4 linked regions of the Homo sapiens genome follow. The protein of the gene in region 1 purifies or fractionates together with the protein of each later gene. This does not show direct contact. Each region holds a gene or a part of one and is shown in the gene's direction. Other genes may lie near its edges.

Region 1 (3,500 bases):
AATGAACAAATATTATTATAATATCCAGATTACTAGCATGATTGTCACAATTTATATCTAACCTTTACAGGATTTTAGCATATTTCATGAAAATAAGTAGATGTACAGAAAATCAAGTTACTCTTTGTTCTATAATAGAAACAGAGAAGATAAGCCACAGTGCTTTTAAAACAGAGTATTTGAGCAAGAGACTTTGTTGGTGTTACTTTTTCTCTTTTCTCAATTTGATTTATCTTCTAGGAAAGGATCATACAGATTCTTCAGTTCAGAAGAACTCCAGCAACACTTACATGGTGACAACACCCTCTCCCATTCTCTGTTGTTACTCCAAATTTTAATTACTGGTCTCAAAACTCCTGTCTTAATCTTAGCAGACAACCTTGGCACTTACCACTGAATGAAAATGAAGGCTATTATGTGAGAAATACTTCATCTTTCTCCCTTTTACCTCCTACCACCCTACAAAAAATCCTGCATCCATTCCCTGTCTTTATTCTTTGCCTCTGCTCTTGGGGGAAGAAATTCTTTCTATCTCTGAATTTAATTTCATTCCTTTCTGTTTTCTCTGTGATATTGCCACATTAGTTATTTCTTCTCTTACCTAGGTTTTTAAAACATGTTTTCTTTGTACTTTATCCTTCTAGATGCCCTATGAATATGCTCAAGTTTCTTTCATGTAAAAAAAAACACAAAAGAATTTTAACTCTGCATCTTTCATGGTTGCCTTCTTATCTCTTTACTTTCCGTATTGACTGTGACTATGTACTCTAGGTCTCTACATTCTCACCTTCAATTCAGTCTTTTAACCCACTGTCACCTGGCTTGTGCCTTCACCACTTAGCTGAGATTGCATTAGCAAAGGTTACTAATGACTTCTTGATAGCTAAGTATAATGGACATTTTCAGATCTGAACTTGACTGATCTTCTGCATTTAATACTGTTGTCTGTAACAAATCTTTTCTATTTTTATGAATTTTTCAAAGGTAAGGATAATACTTGTTTTTTGTAGAAAATTTAAACATTACAGAGTCATAAGGATTCTTATGCTCACCTTGAAACTTTATTCACCCTGTGTTTCTTGACTCTTTCTTTTCTGATACTGGTCCAGCTCTTACTACTCTGGCTAATTTCTTAATGCATACTTTGTAGGTTTTTCATTCACTGCCAACCCCTTGCATGTTGGTGTTCAGTTGGATCCAGTCTCAAACTTTTTTCCACTTGAAATTTCCCTGCAAAATAATTTAGTTTTCTCTCATGACCCTAGCTATCACTCAGCGACTGCCAGTTCAGTATTTCTAACTCAGATCACTTTCCAAAGTGCCAAATCCCATACATCCTCTTTCTTACATGGATAATTGTCCATAAATCTCATAGGCACTTCAAACTTCAGGAGTCCAAAATGGAAACTAGAACCTTTTCTCGAAGTCTGTGCCATTTTCTCTATTACCTAGTCATTGTCATTGCCTTTGGTCTAATGTGTCGAGCCAGAGCCTTACCCCAGATTTCTTTCTCTTTTTCATCCTTTGTATCCAATTTGTCACTAATTTCAATAGAATCTTCTCAACATGTCTCATATATTTCTCATTCTTTTCATTCACAGTGTTGCTGTTTGAGTTCAGACTCTTTCATTTCTTGTCTACATGAATTTTTAAGTGGTCCCATTGCCTTCTGTCTTAACCTGACTTCAATCCGTCTGTCACTGGGCAAATAATTGTCCTTAAACACTCAAATATGACCATATCATTTTTCTGCTTAAAATAGTGTCTCCCCGTTAGCTTCACTGTAAATCCCACAGGAGAGATTCCAACCACCTTAGCATACCACCCAAAGCCTTTGTTAACTGGCCTTCGCCTATCTTTCTAGCTGATGTCAGGACTAGGTCTCAAGGGACTGAAATTAGAATGGATTATTCTATTGTAAGTGTCAAGTAACAGAAAGAAGCTGCAAGTTGAATATGAACTGAAGTATTTAAGAGTTTTGAATGGTCAAATCAGAGACACAATGATATTTGAGACGTGGTTAGGGTAAGAGTAAGAATGAAAATTACAGAAAGACCTAAAAGGGCTGCCTATAAATAAAGAGGAAGGAGAATAAGATCAAGAACACAGAAAATAAGATGTTGGAAACTATCACCAAGAGTCACTGAAATGTCTATAGCATTGAGCTTATGATGGGTAGGTATGTTAGGTTGACTTAAAGGATCAGATTTAAGATGGAGATTGATAGAAAAATCTATTATATGTCTGATCGTCTTTCTCTTCTATATAAAAGACTTTATTGGCTCTTGTATCAACTATAGGACAAAATTCAAGATTTTCAAATGACCTAAGAGGGCCTCCATATTTAGGCTTCTTTTTATCTCTGCAAACTTACCTCCTTCCCCCTGCCCTCTTGATCTTTAGGTTCCATCAACTCTAAATACCTGCTGCTCTTTTCTCATGTTTCCTCTGCCAAGATTGTCCTTAATTTCCTCATTTTCTGGGTAAATGCCTGTTCATTCCTTAAGACCCTATACAGACATCACCATCTCCAGGACACTCCCTCTGAATCCTCCTTTCTCTCAGAGTTACCCATCCATCCATCCATGCATTTATTTATTTGTTTATTATTGAGAAAATATTTATTGAGTGCTTAATATGGATCAGATTCTATGTCAGGTAATGGGAACACCGTGGTGAATAAGATAGGCCACACATGACCTTTACCCTTCTTGGTCTTACATTTAGCAGTGGATACACATGTATAACGCAATAATCACAAATAAAATAATTACCAATTTCATAAATGCTACAAATAAAATAAACGATGAACTATCATACAGAAAAATGAGGATGAGGGGTAGACAGAGAGGCAAACCACTTTAGTATAAGGTTGAGCCATAAAAAGTTGTTGATCTTTAAACTGTTTGTGTCCCATAAAATAGTTTTACATAGTTTAACCTAATGGTTGACTTTCTGAGGAATTGACATTTAAGCTGAAACCTGAAGGATGAGGTGGAATTGGCCATGCTGGCTAAGCCTATAATTCGGCATGTTCCAGGAACCAAATGAAAAGAATTGAGAAAAAAGGTGAGTGAAACAAAACAAAAGTAAGAGACAGAAGTAGGGCAGATCATATAGGACCTTATAGGAGATTGGATTTGTTTTTCATTAAAATATAAAACCACTGGAGTTTTTTAAGATCCCTCTGTTTACAGTGTGGGACTAGAATAAAAGGGAGTAAGGTTGGAAAAATGCTACCTATTAAGAGGTTGATGTAAGGAGACAATTTGGTGTTGCCTTATTTGTGCAGCTTGGAATCAGGCTGCCTTTGTTTAAATCCTGGATATGCCATTTATTAGCCATGTTACTTCATGTTCAAATTTTGAGTTTTACTCTAATTCTCTAAGCCTCAGTTTATCTATCTGTGAAATAGAGACAATGATAGGATCAACTTCATAGGTCTGGCCTTGAGATTGAATGAGATAATCCATTGCAAACACTAAGCAGTCCTTGACAGA
Region 2 (3,500 bases), on another chromosome or scaffold:
AGGCCACATCTTAGTGGCCTTACTTTACATCTTAGTAAAAAAAAAAAATTTTTTTTCAACTGAAGTTAAGTTTTACCTTGTTACCAGATTCAGAAGAAGATGTTGTTGAAACTCCTGCAGTGTCTCATGATGAACATACACACCAAGAGATAAAGGGCCGAAAAACACTGGCAACTCCTGCAGTTCGCCGTCTGGCAATGGAAAACAATGTAAGTTCTCTTAATATTTAAGTCTGAGATTGTATAGGAAGTGTACATTTGTATCTCTGAAAAATTAGCCAACTATCCCATGATGAAATAGCTCAATGAAATTAAGGAAACATGAAGATATTTGCTACTGAAAAGCAATAGTTGCATAAAAATACATGGGAGAAATGAGAAGTTGTAAACTTATTACTTACTATCAATTGAGCAGTATGATTTTATTATTCTTTCTTAGAGCCTAATAACAGTAAGAGCTACCATTTACTGAGCACTTGTAAATACCAGGTCTTATGTCAGGTGCTCTAGAGGCACAGCATGAGATAGGAATTTGAAGGAGGGAAAACCTGTAAAGGGACTGAAGGAAGCAAGATAAAAAAGAGAAGAGAAGGGAAATTGGCCAGACATGGTTATGGTATCAAGCATCTGGCCTGTCCCAAAGCTTGCCATGGTCCTAAGTAAAAAAAGAAAGACTCTGGCCTGATCTGAGGGTGCAAGGGAGAACCACAGAATTACTGCTTTGAGGCAAGGAGGCCGGCCTTTTGTATTTCCTCTGCCAGTCATTGACTGAATGGAAGGTGGAATGCCAGGCAGGGTGGCTCCCTGGCACTGGGATAGGTATTTACGTATTCTCATTTAACCCTGTAAGATAAGGAGCTATTTTAAGACTTGGAGGGTTTAAGTAACTAGTCTAAAGTCACACAGCTAACATAGCAAGAGCCAGAATTCAAAAGTGAGTCTATATCACTCCAAAACCTGTGCTGTTAGATGTTATATAAACCTCAACAATCATTGCCTCCATTATTTGAGCACATATGTGCCAGACACTATAGACACATCTGTAATCCTCACAAGGACCCTGCAGGCAGGTTGATTAACTTATCTAAAACCAAGTAAGCTGAACTAGGGATTTGAACACAAATCTGTCTGGTTCTGAAACCTGAATACTTTCCACTGTGCCCCACAATGAGACTTTTTGTTTGTCTCTTTTTGAGAAAAGTAAGGTTGCTGTGGGAAAAAAATAAAAGTTTATATTTTGTGAAATATGTAATAGAGTCATTAAAATGTTCATATTCTTTCAGCCAGTTATCCTGCCACTGGGGAACTATCCCAAGAAAATAATCTAGGAATCATTCTTCCTTGTATTTTATATAGCCAAAAATTAGAAGATGCATACACATTCAAATTATGTTATGTATCCTTGATAAAATGTTATGTAACCCTTAAATGTGTTTAAGTATGAAGACCATTTAGCATAACAGAAAATAGATATAGTAACGTGGAACATTAGGTTATTAAGGGCATCAGATGAAATAATGATTTAACATTTTGCTTTGAAATCTATAAAGCATTTTAATAATTTTTTTCTTAATAATATAGAAAGAAATATATAGAAGAAATGTATGATTTGGCTTTCCTAAAACACTCCCTAAAGATGGGTATAGAATACTTGGGTAGAGTGCTTGTATGATTACTAAAAATTAAATATTGGATTTAGTTATCAGAAATCATCTTTTTTCTTTGAATTTGCATATTTATGAATTGAGTTTGTTTAAAATTAAGAACCAGTGGCATTTACAGTTGTTTGTAACTGCCTAAAAATTATTTGTTTAAATTTTCATAGTCCATTTGTTACAAACTTAGTGTTTGCCTTAGTAAAGTCCTTTATTATTTTAGTCATCCTTAGAGATGCACTAATACAAATGAAATGGGGCCTATCCCTAAGAAATTAATACATACTATATATGAGGAGATCATTCCAAGCTTTTATGTTTATTTTTATTTAAATAGAATTAAATGTTTTGTACTGATCTTTCCAAAGCAACTACCAGAAAAATAACTAATTTGAGAGAGCTTTTGTATTATGATTATTTAAGTTGTTACGTTTTTAACTGGTAGCCAGTGTCAGAAACATTGGTCTAAATTTGGTATAGCATTTAGTTTCTCTTAAATTCTCAGCTCTCCCTCTTCTTATGTAGTCCCCAAGAATAGAAAAGGTCGAGTAAGAATTATGCAAGAGATTTTAAAATACTTGAGTATAAAAATGTAAGTTTTCAGCTGGGCATAGTGGCTCACGCCTGTAATTCCAGCACTTTTGGGAGGCTGAGGTGAGAGGATAGCTTGAGGCTAGGAGTTCAAGACCAGCCAGGGCAACAGAGTGAGACCCTGTCTCTACAAAAAATTTTTTTAAAAAGTAAGTTTTCATAAATAGCTCTAGATTATATATAATATAGATACCTGATGGTTACCACATGCATATGTGAACAGTATATACAAAAGTAATGATTACTTAAGTAGAAAATGAAAAGGTTATTTCCTTTTACTAATTTATTGGACAGATATATTTTACTGTCAGTTGATCAAATTCCATTTTGAAACTTTAATGATGTTTTTAAATAGTTGTATTTTTGGCATTAAAATATATCATTTTTTAGATTAAGCTGAGTGAAGTTGTTGGCTCAGGAAAAGATGGCAGAATACTTAAAGAAGATATCCTCAACTATTTGGAAAAGCAGACAGGAGCTATATTGCCTCCTTCACCCAAAGTTGAAATTATGCCACCTCCACCAAAGCCAAAAGACATGACTGTTCCTATACTAGTATCAAAACCTCCGGTATTCACAGGCAAAGACAAAACAGAACCCATAAAAGGTAATGATAATAATAACAATACTATAAGGCAATAGTTCATTTATTTTGGGGGAAGCTACCTCAGTAGATAAATGTATATAATATGGTGTTTTCAAGTCTTACTGAAGGGAAAGTTCAACTTCAGTCAGCATATAATTTTTCTTTTCTTTTCTTTTTTTTTGAGATGGAGTTTTGTTCTTGTTGTCCAGACTGTAGTGCAGTGGCACGATCTTGGCTCACTGCAGCCTCCGCCTCCCAGGTTCAAGCAATTCTCCTGCCTCAGCCTCCTGAGTATCTGGGATTACAGGTGCACGCCACCATGCTCAGCTAATTTTTTGTATTTTTAGTAGAGACAGGGTTTCATCATGTTGGCCAGGCTGGTCTCGAACTCCTGACCTCAGGTGATCCACCCTCCTCAGCCTCCCACAGTGCAGGGATTACAGGCGTGAGCCACTGCGCCTGGCCATAATTTTTAAATGGTGAAATAGCATAGCTTTTCCAGGAAACACTTACAATTTATGTGTATCATTATCTTCTGAAGAGTAATACGTTAGCAGGTTTCTTGAAATATAAACTTGTATATTGATAATTGCTCTGTTTGAAGACACACAGGACATTTTAAACATTCACTATTTGTAGTTAGCTTTCAAAATAACTAGTTCTGATTTG
Region 3 (3,185 bases), on another chromosome or scaffold:
CTTGCTTTGTCTCCCAGGCTGGAGTGCAGTGGCATGATCATAGCTCACTGCACCCTCAAACTCCTGAGCTCAGAAGATCTTCCTGCCTCAGTCTCCCAAGTAGCTGGGACTACAGATGCATGCCACCATGCTGGCTAATTTTCTATTTTTAGTAAAAATGGGGTTCTTGCTATGTTGCCCAGGCTGGTCTTGAACTCCTGGCTTCAAGCAGTCCTCCCACCTTGGCCTCCCAAAGTGCTAGGATTACAGGCATGAGCCACCATTCCCAACCCCATTTCAGGAAATTGTTGTTTCAGTAAACTTGTACCTCATCTAATGCACAGATCACTTTCCGTTTTCCCCAGTTATCCTCAAAATATTTTTTTTACAGGTATTTGGCCCACCCTAGTATCCAACTCAGGACAATGCGTTATATTTGGCTGATATGTTGCTTAAATGTCTTCCAGTGTAGCACAGTTCCCCCCACCCCTTTTTAAATAGCATTGGCTTATTCAAGAAACTTCTGGATATGTCTCCTTGCTGCCCCATGGTGTCATTTAGCTTGTCTGTAAGCCCCGTATTTCCTATCAACTGGAATTTCTAAAGACTTGATGGATTCAAGTTAAACTTTTTTTTTTTTTTTTTTTTTTTTTTTTGACAGAGTGAGAGTTTCACTCTGTCGCCCAGGCTGGAGTCTAATGGCGTGATCTCGGCTCATTGCAACCTCCGCCTCCCTGGTTCAAGTGATCCTTCTGTCTCAGCCTCCAAAGTAGCTGGGATTACAAGTGTGCACCACGATGCCCAGCTAATTTTTGTATTTTTAGTAGAGACAGGGTTTCACCATATTGGCCAGACTGGTCTTGAACTCCTGACCTCAAGTGGTCCGCCCACCTCAGCCTCCCAAAGTGCTGGGATTACAGGTGTGAGCCACCGTGCCTAGCCTCAAGTTAAACATTTTGGGCTAGAAGACATGGCTGGTGTATTCATATGGCATCACACACATGATATCTGGGTGGGCCACCCTTAGCCTTGCAAAGATTGACCACTGGACCAGGAATGGCCTCTTATCCTTTCATTATATAGTGCTTTTCCCCTATTGACCTGACAGTGACCCATACAAGTGATGAGTTCCCTATTAACCAGATACCTAATGGTTTTAACACTTACAATAATCCTTGTCTAAATCAGTAATTTCATTAGAATTTACCGAAAAATGCCCGCTTCCCCTGAATTCTTTCAGTCTTCCATTCTTCTGTGAAGTGGAACTTCTTCCCTCCAATCAACTAGGGTTCTTTGGTTATCATGGAATATCATTCCTATTGATTGGAAAGCAGGATAAATGCTAATTCTTTCTGTTATCCACTTTTCAAGGTGAAATGTCGTCTCAAATAGTGACAAAGAAAGATTTTTCCTTTTCCTTTTTTTTTCTTTTTCTTTTTTTTTTTTTAGACAGGGTCTCGCTCTGTTGCCCAGGCTGGAGTGTAGTGTCGCAATCTCAGCTCACTGCAACCTCCTCCCCACAGGTGCAAGAGAGTCTCATACCTCAGCCACCTGAGTAGCTGGGATTACAGGCATGCACCACCATGCCCGGCTGTTTCTTGTATTTTTAATAGATACAGGGTTTCACCATGTTGGCCAGGCTGGTCTTGAACTCCTGGAATCATGTGATCTGCACACCTTGGCCTCCCAAAGTGCTGGGATTACAGGCGTGAGCCAGCACACCTGGCCTGCTTTTCCCTTTCTGACTATCTTAGAATCATGGAATTTCATTTATTCAGTGTCCTCTATAATTATTATATTTGATTTGTGAATTGCCATGGCTTTGACCAGTGGGAGCCCCTTCAGCATAACTCCTGTGCCCTTTGACTCTTGGAAGTCTCCTTGCTTTTTGGCACAACAAAAATTGTAGACATGTCTTGTTCATTTCGCCCCCCAGACTTGGTAGTTTTTGGCAAGCAGTGGTATTAGAGACCATAGCCTGGCACTGCAAGTGTTCATTGTTCTTGGGGGAGGGGACGGTGCTTTGGGTCCATTTCCATGGACATAGCAAGAAAAAAGTACATATTTTAAAAATCATGAAGCCAGGTGTGGTAGCTCAGGCCTGTAATCCCAGCACTTTGAGAGGTAGTGGATCACTTGAAGTCAGAAGTTCGAGAACAGCCTGGCCAATATGGCAAAATCTCGTCTCTACTGAAAATACAATAATTAGCTGAACGTGGTGGTGCGTGCCTGTAATCCCAGCTACTTGGGAGGCTGAGACAGGAGAATCGCTTGAACCCAGGAGGCAGAGGTTGCAGCGAGCTGAGATTGCGCCACTGCACTCCAGCCTGGGCATCGCAGGGAGACTCCATCTCAAAATAAATAAATAAAATAAAATAAAAATTTTTAAATAAAAATCATGAGTTAATACTGTAATTCTTATTCATAAAATTATTCTTATTTAGTTAAATAGTTACTACCTATTTGATTTTGTAATTCTGTTTTCTCTTACACTGAAAACCTTGATATCTAGCATCATATTTTCATTTTCTTATTTTTTTACCATAATATAAAGAAAATCATTTCAAAATGTCAGTAGCAATATTTTTAAAGACACTGATACCACTGAGTGATTTTTTTCTGTGAGTGTGGATATTAAGCAAGAGGGTGACAAGGATGGATACTTTTAAAAATCCCCCTTCCTGCTGTGTGGAGAATGGATTGGAACTAGGGTGGTGGCAATGCAGATAGAATGGGACCAATTCAGAATATATTGTCCTTTGGGGTCTGCCATTTAGCATTGGCTTTGATTTTATGCTCCGAATGGACCATCTCCCAGGCCCCTTCCCACCCTGCAATTCTAAGATGGCGTCCTCCTTGGCTCTGATAAGCACACACTGCATGTTGCTCATGGGTCTCCTGCTCTCCCTAGGATCTCATGGTCCGGAATGACACCCCCTGTGGAACCACCATTGGACCTATCTTGGCTTCTCGGCTGGGGCTGCGGGTGCTGGATTTAGGCAGCCCCCAACTGGCCATGCACTCTATCCGGGAGATGGCCTGCACCACAGGAGTCCTCCAGACCCTCACCCTCTTCAAGGTAACACCCACCCCAGACCCTCTCTGGCAGCTGGGCTGCTTCCCCTCTAGTGCCTGGATTGGTTGCTGGGACAACATCGCCATCACAAAGTGACTGGCCTGAGTAATGGGGGCTGGTTGTCATGCTG
Region 4 (3,500 bases), on another chromosome or scaffold:
AAAATGTGAGCCAGAAACATGAAGTGAGCCTATGCTGTTGGGAAAATGGCACCAATAGACTTACTCAATACACGGTTGCCAGAAATCCTTAATTGTAAAAAATGCAGTATCTGCAAAGTGCAATAAAATGAGGTATGCCAGTATAAGCTTTGTACTTTTTACTTAGTTTTGGTAACAAGTGTCTAAGAATTGGTGCAGTAAATGTGGACTCTTAACTTTCATGTATTTTTTTGTCAGTCTGTAACTGATTTCAGTTTGAGTTATGTATTATTTTTATGGTATTTATTATGTGTCCTTCTTTATAGTTTCTTATCACCACAGGAGAAAATCTAGATTATCTTGATGGTGTCCATACGGTGTTTGGTGAGGTGACAGAAGGCATGGACATAATTAAGAAAATTAATGAGACCTTTGTTGACAAGGACTTTGTACCATATCAGGATATCAGGTATGGTTACAATTTGCTATCTGAATGTACTAGAATGTTTTAATATTGAGATGTTTAACACGTAGTGGTATGGATAGGAACGGTATGCATAGGACTGGTTTCTGGATAATTCTAATCCCAAAAGGTGAATTAATATAAGACTGTAAGAATCTTTATAATAAAAAGGACTTTTTGTATTTTTATACTTGTACTAATTATTTATAATTATGTTTGGAGGAATTATTTATTTATTTATTTTTTGAGACGGAGTCTCATGCTGTTGCCCAGGCTGGAGTGCAGTGGCGCGATCTTGGCTCACTGCAAGCTCTGTCTCCCGGGTTCACACCATTCTCCTGCCTTAGCCTCCCAAGTAGCTAGGACTACAGGCGCCCGCCACCACACCTGGCTAATTTTTTGTATTTTTAGTAGAGACGGGGTTTCACCATGTTAGCCAGGATGGTCACGATCTCCTGACCTCATGATCCACCCACCTCAGCCTCCTGAAGTGTTGGGATTACAGGAATGAGCCACTGCACCCAGCTGGAGGAATTGTTAATGCTTTAATTTAGTTTTTTAATTGAGAAGTAGGGCAAAAGTACTAAGATTTAGACAGTTATATTAGTTTACATCTTAAAGTAATGCAGGGTGATAAATATGGTATCACTCAATGCAAAACAGTAACACTCATTGTGAAAGTATATCTAGGTTAGTAATATCCATATGCAATATGGGTTTTTTTTGGCCTTAGAGATAATCAAGTAATTTTTTGTAATCTATTAAAATAAAATAGGATTCTGAAATAACTTCAATGTATAACATTTGATTTGGATTTATTTTGTAAGGATAAATCATACGGTGATTTTAGATGATCCATTTGATGACCCTCCTGATTTATTAATCCCTGATCGATCACCAGAACCTACAAGGGAACAATTAGATGTAAGTAAAGCCCTCTTATGATTAAATGTACATTCATATTAATGATTTGTATGGATTTATCTTTTTCATCTGTTAAAGTTAATTTTTTCCGAATTATTATCTTGCTTAATTATATTCAACAAGTTTGGAGTTCTTTTTCTTTTCCACAGAGGTACTCATTTTTCTAGCTGTCTTCTCATTTCTCTAATTTCCTTTCTTCAGTTTCTTTTCTACTGAGACAACCTCAGCTCTAGAAGCTTACATGAACACCTTGGGAAAGTGTTTTTCTTGTCATCAAATTAAACTGTTATCTTGTGAGGTAACTTTTCAACTGGGGACACTCTGGAGCCAGGCTAGAACCCAGAAATTTCTGTGAAACAGCGCAGACTGTTCCCCCACATATTTTAAGGTTTATGTGGCTTCCTGAAAGCTGAATTTGTCTTTATGGTTGGGATTGGTGCTTAATTGTCAGATCATTTCTCTTCATTCAGCAGTTAGAATTGGATAATAAATAGTGTCCATATAAATATTTATTTATTTTTTTGAGATGGAGTCTCACTTTGTTGCCTAGGCTGGAGTGCGTGGTGGGATCTCGGCTCATTGTGGCCTCTGCCTTCCTCATTCAAGCAATTCTCGTGCCTCAGCCTCTTGAGTTGCTGGGATTGTAGGTGCATGCCACCACGCCCAGCTAATTTTTGTATTTTTAGTAGAGACAGGGTTTCACTGTGTTGGCCAGGCTGGTCTCGAACTCCTGACCTCAAGTGATCCACCTGCGTGTTCTCCCAAAGTGCTGGGATTACAGGCACGAGCCACCATGCCTGGCCTATTTTGATTTTAACAGAAGCCCACTTTGGCTAATATTTTAGAATTAATATAAATCAATTCTTGGAGGTTTATAAGTTTGTCTCAGTTGCTGTCCAATTAATTATTAAAAATTTTTTTTTAGAGACAAGATCTCACTGTGTCACCCAGCTGGAGTGCAGTGGTGTGATTGTAGCTCACTGCAACCTTGATCAGTTACTGTTTTAGCATGTTTGATATAACTAAGAATAAAGTATGTCTTCTATGTTTCTCAGATTTTTTTATTCTTTAAATATATACATGAGTAACTTCTGTCTTAACAGAGTGGTCGAATAGGAGCAGATGAAGAAATTGATGATTTCAAAGGAAGATCAGCTGAGGAAGTAGAAGAAATAAAGGCAGAAAAAGAGGCTAAAACTCAGGCTATACTTTTGGAGATGGTAAGATAATTATCTTTGTTCAAATTGTTCTGTAATATATCTAATAATACTTACTGAGTGTTTATTTCTGGCTCTTCAGTAGTCTTAAAATGTTAAAAATTGAGTTATGATTTTTTTCTGATTTAAATTTGGTATGGCATAGTAATAAATTGGCTCTACTGTGAAAATAAATTTGACTCTACTGTCAATATAGTGCTAAGTGCCTTTTTAAACAGTGGGAAGTGGATCTCTAACTTATTAATTGAATTTCAGTTGTTTAATATTCATCTCATTCTTAAAGAGTGTTTAGCAGGCTGAATTTTATGTATATTAAAGAATAGTTCTTCACTGTACCACTCAAGTGTTAAGATTAAACAGAATGGTAGTTGTAGGGCAAAATAATGGGTGGAAACTGAGCACTCTAAAATATACTGCTTCTCTGTATTACTAACAACCTGAAGTCATTTGGGGAATAATAATTCAGTAGATGATTAATTGACCTACTTGGTATTATTTTCCATTTCTTATTTTTGTAGAATAGGCATACCTGTCATATCATAGATAATAAATATTGGAATGAATGGATAATAAAGTTACTATTTTATATAATAGAACTTTCAGATTTGTAGTCTGTTTTAAAGTTTATTTATTTATTATTTTATAGAGACAGGGTCTCACTCTGTTGTTCAGGCTGGAGTACAGTGGTGTATGATCATAGCTTGCTGCAGCTTCCAACTCCTCAGCTTAAGCAATGCCCTTGCCTCAGCCTCCTGAGTTGCTGAGACCACAGTCACACACCACAATGCCCTGCTAATTTTAAAATTTTTTTTGTAGAGACAGGATCTCCCTATGTTGGCCAGGCTTAAGTTTATATTACCATCAACTGTCTGAATGAACAAATAGTAAAGGCTGTATAGTTCAAGAAAGCTTTACTG

What was found. Proteins that work in one complex are often made in the same cells at the same time.
Region 2: the proteins of FAM133A (region 1) and DBT purify together in Homo sapiens (affinity purification with mass spectrometry; one large-scale study listed by BioGRID and IntAct). This does not show direct contact.
Region 3: the proteins of FAM133A (region 1) and DNPEP purify together in Homo sapiens (affinity purification with mass spectrometry; one large-scale study listed by BioGRID and IntAct). This does not show direct contact.
Region 4: the proteins of FAM133A (region 1) and PPIL4 purify together in Homo sapiens (affinity purification with mass spectrometry; one large-scale study listed by BioGRID and IntAct). This does not show direct contact.

The regions. Positions count from the first base shown.
Region 1 is NC_000023.11:93,705,206-93,708,705, forward strand, and holds part of FAM133A (protein FAM133A), read left to right. Parts: intron 1-240; exon of another isoform or gene 241-3,069; intron 3,070-3,500.
Region 2 is NC_000001.11:100,215,335-100,218,834, reverse strand, and holds part of DBT (lipoamide acyltransferase component of branched-chain alpha-keto acid dehydrogenase complex, mitochondrial isoform 1 precursor), read left to right. Parts: intron 1-87; coding exon 88-209; intron 210-2,635; coding exon 2,636-2,852; intron 2,853-3,500. UniProt on the Homo sapiens protein: The branched-chain alpha-keto dehydrogenase complex catalyzes the overall conversion of alpha-keto acids to acyl-CoA and CO(2).
Region 3 is NC_000002.12:219,374,728-219,377,912, reverse strand, and holds part of DNPEP (aspartyl aminopeptidase), read left to right. Parts: intron 1-2,890; coding exon 2,891-3,058; intron 3,059-3,185.
Region 4 is NC_000006.12:149,532,544-149,536,043, reverse strand, and holds part of PPIL4 (peptidyl-prolyl cis-trans isomerase-like 4), read left to right. Parts: intron 1-305; coding exon 306-448; intron 449-1,269; coding exon 1,270-1,366; intron 1,367-2,469; coding exon 2,470-2,586; intron 2,587-3,500. UniProt on the Homo sapiens protein: PPIases accelerate the folding of proteins. It catalyzes the cis-trans isomerization of proline imidic peptide bonds in oligopeptides.